Linked DNA regions of Homo sapiens. The protein of the gene in region 1 purifies or fractionates together with the protein of each later gene. This does not show direct contact. Each region holds a gene or a part of one and is shown on either strand. Other genes may lie near its edges.

Region 1 (3,500 bases):
CCCCTGAGCAGATTGGAGTTTAAGCTCAGGTAGAATTTAGTCTTCATGAGTTAGAGGAGGCTGTTTCACCACTGAGGATGCAAGGGCTCAAGAATCTTATAGCCAGTGTTCATGGCTTTGGGATTCTGGGATAAGGTGAGTGTCTCCACTCCACTCCTTGCCCTTCAGCCTGCACAAGTGGACTCTAGTGGTTTTCTGCTTGCAAAAGTGGTGGGCTCAGCAAGGATACATTTCTGTGGCAGGATTGAAGACGGTTGTTTAGGTGAGGCAAGGCGCAAATGACCTTAGACCTTTCACCCTTATTAGATCCCTCTCAGACTCATCCTTGTCCCCATCACCATCCAAGGAATTAAAAAAATTACTCTTTTTCTCTCAACAAAGGCTAGTGCCCCTTCTCCCGCTCTGCTAATCCTGAGCCTGCCTCTCCTTTCTTGTGTTTTCTCAACAATGCCTTATTCCCCCTTTTCCCATCTAGTAGCATTCAGTACACAGTTTTAGGTAGCTGGACTTGAGAACCACAAGAATAGGGCATTGTCTTTGTTTGGTTACTTTCCCCGGTGCTCAGTGCTCAAGTAGGCACTTGTTGAATATTAATGGAATCATTGAAGAAACTGCAGGCATTTTCAGACATACTATACATAGTTGTGGTTTCCCATTCTGGCCGCTTTAAAAGCACTGCATCCCTCATTGCATGGGCTGGTTTAGGTTTAAAAGGATTCAGTGAACTCTTCCTCTCATTATTGTCCATCCAGGATTTGAGGTGCCTTTCTCCTTGAGCCCGGGTTTCCCCTTCAGTGTCAGGTGATACCATATTCACATCAAGGTCAGCTCCCTCACGGGCCTGGCTGGTGCTCCTGGGACCAAGGCCTGGTCATCCTGTGTGCCTGTGATCTGCTTTCTGGGTAGTGTCCAAACCTGACGGCCCTTCCCTGGAAGGATTCTCATGTCCCAGAAACACTGGACATAGACACCAAGGGACTGGTTTTATCATGTAGTAAATCCCCTTATCCCTCTGAGTCTGTTCCCCCACTTGTGAGTCAGGATCCTACATGCTTGTGCACTCATAGGGTTGTGATGGGTACTTTGTAAATTGTCAAATCCTAACCATATATCAGGTCTTAATCTTCATATCACAGCAGTTCATGTGGAAATGGAGGGGGAAGAAGCTAAAGACTTGCCAGCCAGAGGTTTCATGCGGTCTTCCCCTTTCCCCAGGAGGTTCACAGAAAGCGTAAAGAGGCTGATTTCACAGCTATTTTATCTGAAACAAAGCAATAGGAGCAATAATAGCAGCTAACATTTGAGTACTGTGCCAAGCTCTTTAAGATGAATTCTATTCAATCTTCTGGCAACCCAATGAGAGGTTAGTCTTTCAGTCCAGTTTCACTATGAGGTAGGTAGTTAAGTGACCTTCCCAAGGTCTCATGGCAAAAGGCAGAACAGAACGAGAGATCTGACCCAAGTCCCACACTCCCGCCTTCTCATGTTTCAGCAACCCAGGAGGAGAGAGCATGTGTCCTGCATCTTTTTAAAAAGGACCTGCCATTACTTAGAGCTTCACATTTATAGTGGGTGTGTCCTGAGTAAGCTCACACCTATGGCTGTGGAATCCCTTTTCAGAAAGGCAATCTCGATGACCTAGTGATCTGGCCTAGTCCGGCCAAGGTGCTGGGGGAAGGATGAGGTCATCTGGGGGCCTTTCCAACACAGTGACACTTGTGGGGACAGTTGTCTACACTGGAAGAAGCATTGGTGGTGCCTGTGGAAGTACCACAGAACATTGACGCAGGGTCTGTTTGTCTGTGCAGGTGCTACCTTTTTACCCACACTTAAGTGACGCAAAATGCCCTTCAATGGCGAGAAGCAGTGTGTGGGAGAGGACCAGCCAAGCGATTCTGATTCTTCCCGGTTTTCCGAAAGCATGGCTTCGCTCAGTGACTATGAATGCTCCAGGCAGAGCTTTGCAAGTGACTCCTCCAGCAAATCCAGCTCTCCTGCTTGTGAGCCGATGGGGGAGCAGGGGTTGTGGGTGGCAGGGGTACTTCTAGATATGTGTTGGATTTGAAAACTCAGAAACGCCTGAGAGCAACAGACTTCCCCTCCTTTCTAGATGCACCAGAATAGCACTGCAGAGGCACTGCAGCTTTCCGGGACACATTCTCAGAAATAGCCACTAAAGTTTACAACCTGCTGATTTTTATTTTGATCACTGCTTCCGATCTGTTTCGGTCTGATGATAAGTCAGGACTTCAACCCCATCTGTCTTTTCTCCCAAACAGCAGAAAGCCATTCCTTGAGATTACTTCTTAGATCTCCACTGAAGGATAAATTCAAATTGGTCTTTTCTGATTATTCCTGATTTACATTGAAGGAAACTGGCCTTCATTGAAAGGTCAGGAAGGAAGTGAAATAATCTAAAGGGTTTCATGTTGATTTCAAAAAAATATTGTGCAAATCACCCCAGGAAGGTACCCACAAGGAGAATTACTACATTAGGGGTGTGAGAAAGAGTTAAAAGAGAGGCCACAGCAAAAGGAGATATCTTTTTCCCGTTTTTGCATGTAGAAACTAGAGATGGGTAAAGCAGATGTGTTTGCCTTTTTTTTTTTAATTGGCACTTTATTTAGTAAATATAACAGCTTTAACTGGCAAAGCAAATGCAGGAAAAAGCAACTAATGTTTAATATGCTGAACTGTCCACTTCTTACAAATTGCTTCATTTGTATTTTAAATTTTTACATTCTCATTTTTTAAAACTTAGAAGATACATAAGAATAGAGAAAAGAAAACATTGCCTATGATATCACTCAAAGACGACAGCTGGCAGTGCTTTGCCGTATCTTTATCCTTCACATAGACATATGTGTGTATATGTGTGTGGACTCTTCTTGCTTAGTATTATAACTAAAACATTTACTCATGATTACATGTTTTTGAAACATTGGTTTTATGAATACTTATTACTTTACCAAGTGAATGTACGGTAAAATTAACCATTGATTAATCACTGGACATTTAGTTTCCATTTTTTTTTTTTTTTTTTTTTGCTGTTATAAATAGTGCTTTATGAACATCTTACTGCATGAAGCCTTTCTGGAAAGACTTTTGGATATCACTGGATTATTGGACCAAAGTATATAGACATTTTTAAGGAGAATCTTGAGTCAGACCTGGCAAAAGAAATTAACAGCAGCCACCCCAGGTTTCTGTGCCTTTTCTCACTCTTTATACTGTATGTGGTGTTGTTGCATCTGACACCAGGGTACCTAGGCATCCTGAAGAAGGGTTTTACCAATTCTGTGTATCACCTTTCTCTTCTTCCTCCTCTTTCCCTGATCCTCCTCCTCATCTTCTCCTAAAAATTAGGTAGCCAGGCGCAGTGGCTCACACCTGTAATCCCAGCACTTTGAGAGGCTGAGGCAGGCAAATCACCTGAGGTCAGGAGTTCAAGACCACCTGGCCAACATGGTGAAACCCCATCTCTACTAAAAATACAAAAA
Region 2 (3,500 bases), on another chromosome or scaffold:
GGTGTGTCTACTCATGCTAATTTTGCAATTCAAAGCAAATGTAGGAAAGCTACCCTTTAAGATCGCTCAACATAATGATATTGGATTATTACATAGTTGGAAAGGCTGTTTGATACATTAATAATGTAGCAGGGCTGGTTTATGATTAAACACTGGTTTAAAACCAAGTAATGGTTTCAAGGCAAAGGCAGAGGAGAAGCTTGATTCTAGCAAGGCTACGCAGTGGCTGATGAAGTGGTGGAAAATACAGCCTGGACTCTAATTTTAGGCCTCTTCTGCAGTACCTTTTAATTTTCTATGCCTAATAGTTGCCTTTGTCTCTCTGTTGTGGGTCATCCGAAAGCCATGTGGTAAACAGACAAAATACTAATGAGATTGAAACTGGGGTATGTAGCACTTTGCATTGGTTGGTCAGTTTTTTAGTCTGTAAGTTAATGTTGCTCTCTAGATTGAGGTTCAAATACAATAGTAATTTTTATGGCTGGAGCAGAACAGGCTAACTTAATTCACCACCTTTCTGCTCACCTGCCCTTCCTGTTATCTCTGGATTGGATTTTTTCAGTATTGCTGTCACCCTGTAAGGGATGCCAACCTGAGCTCATTGCCAAGTCTGGCACTAGAATATGAGTCCTTCCTCACTTCTAATTGGTCTGTTTCTCCACCTGCCCCAAGTTTTATCCTTCGGGGATGTGCTGTTCACCACCTTTTAACTTTTTTGCCTTTGGTGCTAATGGAAGTATTTTTAGTAATTATATATAATTTCAATCAACAGATATTAAGACACTATGGTAAATATTTGTTAAAAATTGTAGTGTTACAAAGCAATTCTTATGCTAGCTGCAGCAGCTAGCATAAGAATTGCTTTGTAATACAATTTTTAACAAAGATTTACCATAGTGATTACAGGTGTGAGCCACCGCACCTGGCCTGGGCTCTGCTATTTAAATCCTGTAGGTCTCAGTTTTTTCCTCTTAATCTCCCCTGGTAGTTGTACCAGTTAAATGGATGCTGATGGTAGAGCAACAAATGCTCCCTAATCCATTGCTTGTGTTTCTCCTTGCACAGAATGCAGTTTTGTCACCTCCATGTTTTCGTATGAATGGAATACTTGTTATTCCTTGTAACCTAGTGAACACCTCTTCATTCTTCCATACTTGAGCTAAAATCAACCTTTATGTGAAGCCTTCCCAAAATCGCCAAACCTCCAGCCCCACCCATTCCTTTCTCTCCTGTCTTACATAAATCTCTCTTTTTGCATTGTGTGGTTCTATTCGTTTTTCTATATTAGTCTATGAGCTAACTGAGGGCAGGAATCGTATCTTATTTATTGCTTGAGTGTTTGGCATGGTGCCTGCTAAATGCTTGTTGAATAAAAGTACAAATAAAGTTATAGCTTTAACAACATTAAAAAATAGGATTTTAAGGACCAGAACTCATTTCTTCTTCCAGCAGAAACTTGCTTCAGTGTCTTAAGCTTTATTGGTTGCAGTTGTTTGGTTGGAACCTGCTACAGGATGTGTCTTCATCTGCATGCCAGTGTGTACTTGTTTATTTACTTAGCATTTCCTCTTCTGCCTCAACCCTCTTCCCGAGTCACCTTACTCTACTGCCGTCCACTTGATGATTTCCCTCATGGGGACTTACATTTAGTCATCTCAAAAATACCTACTATGTGCCTACTGTGTGCCAGAAACTTGACGGGTTTATAGATTCAGTCACCAAATTCTTAGCCCTTACCTGGACCTTCAAAGAGAGGCAGCCTCCATGAAAAGCAGATGTGCAGACAAACCCAGCAGTGCCATCAGGTACTGAAGTTCATCCGGTGCATCGTGATGGCATTGAGGAGGCAGCCTGAGTCCACCTGGTCAGTCAGGGCAAGCACACAGAGAAGGCAGCATTTGAGCCGAGGCTGCAGTGGGGTTAACCCATCTGCCCACTAGGCTGGAACATTTTGGCCTTTTTTAACTTGTCGTGTGTGAAATCTTGAAGTTGCAGACAGCATAGCTTCCAGAAGTTGCTCAGAGTAATTTATTCTTACTGAAGTACCTTACTGAGGTAACGTTTTACCTGCAGTGAAATGCACTGATTTTAAGTATACCATTGTAGGAGTTTTGTCAGACCTATATGCCCAAGTCACCAGAACCCAATCAAGATACAGAATGCTTTTTATCACTCAAGAGAGTTCCTTCCAGAGAGCACATTAATCTCCATTTCTTTGGTAAGCATCCACTCTTTGATTTCTAGTACTATGGATTTCTCAAGGTAGGTTTGAATGGCCAAGAAATGTCTTAATGCCTATTTGTTTCTTTTTTCCTCTCACTTTTTCTTTTACTTTTGTTTTCTGAGACAGGAACTCACTCTGTTGCCCAGGCTGGAGTGCAGTGCTGTGATCTTGGCTCACTGCAACCTTCGCCTCCTGGATTTAAGTGATTCTCCTGTCTCAGCCTCCCGAGTAGCTGGGAGTGTACCACCATGCCTGGCTAACTTTTGTATTTCTTTTTTTTTTTTTTGGTAGAGACAGGGTTTCACTGTATTGCTCAGGCTGGTCTCAAACTCCTGGCCTCAAGTGATCTGCCAGCCTTGGCCTCCTAAAGTGCTGGGATTACAGGGCGTGAGCCACCACACCCGGCCCCATTTTTTTCTTTATGCAGTGTTTTATAATTTCTTGAACACAGCATCTTTATATGGGAAATAAGAAAGGATCCTAGAAAAGAGAGGGGTGGCAAGAGATGAGGGAATTAATGAAGTCCTCTTGGGAAGGAACTGATTTACACAAATAGGAACCAGGGCAGGAATGCCGTTAGAATAGCCTGACTCCAGGAAGTGTAAACAGATATGTCAAAGTATTTCCTGAGGAACTGGGAGGGTTCCAGTGCAGTGTCAATCATTCTGGATTCTTCCAACGTACTGATGCACTGAAAGCTAGAAATGGACTTCTTTCATAAAGTGAGGAAAAATACAAAGAACTTGTACCTTTAGTAAAACAGGGTGTCAGCCAGACATGGTGGCTCATGCCTGTAATCCCAGCACTTTGGGAGGCTAAGGAGGGAGGATGGCTTGAGGCCAGGAATTTAAGACCAGCCTAGTCAACATAGCAAGACCCCATCTCTACCAAAAAAAAAAAAAAAAAAAAAAAGGTGGCACACACCTGCATTCTTGGCTGCTTGGGAGGCTGAGGTGGGAGGATCGCCTGAGTCTGGGCAGTTGAGGTTGTGGTGAGCCGTAACTGTGCCACTGCACTCCAGCCTGGGTGACAGAGTAAGACTCTATCTTTAAAAAGTAAATAAATAAATAAATAAATAGAGTATTCTTGAACCAGTTAGAGAAGTGGACCCACTGGGTGAAAAAAACGGTTCTTGATACACATTATAAAGATACCCTCTAAAACCTTTGTGGCAGTTTGCAGAATGAGCAGGGGTTGAGGGCACCATTTTCTCCACATTCTGGCCCAAATTAGAAATTGTTATTTGTATTTTCCCTCTAAATGAACAGATGAAAGA

The links. The genes of interacting proteins can lie anywhere in the genome.
Region 2: the proteins of TCP11L2 (region 1) and LMO7 purify together in Homo sapiens (affinity purification with mass spectrometry; one large-scale study listed by BioGRID and IntAct). This does not show direct contact.

The regions. Positions count from the first base shown.
Region 1 is NC_000012.12:106,309,233-106,312,732, forward strand, and holds part of TCP11L2 (T-complex protein 11-like protein 2), read left to right. Parts: intron 1-1,808; 5' UTR 1,809-1,843; coding exon 1,844-2,000; intron 2,001-3,060; exon of another isoform or gene 3,061-3,202; intron 3,203-3,500. UniProt on the Homo sapiens protein: Promotes the migration of muscle-derived satellite cells (MDSCs) during differentiation throught interaction with FMNL2 and therefore may participate in microfilament assembly.
Region 2 is NC_000013.11:75,639,330-75,642,829, forward strand, and holds part of LMO7 (LIM domain only protein 7), read left to right. Parts: intron 1-3,500.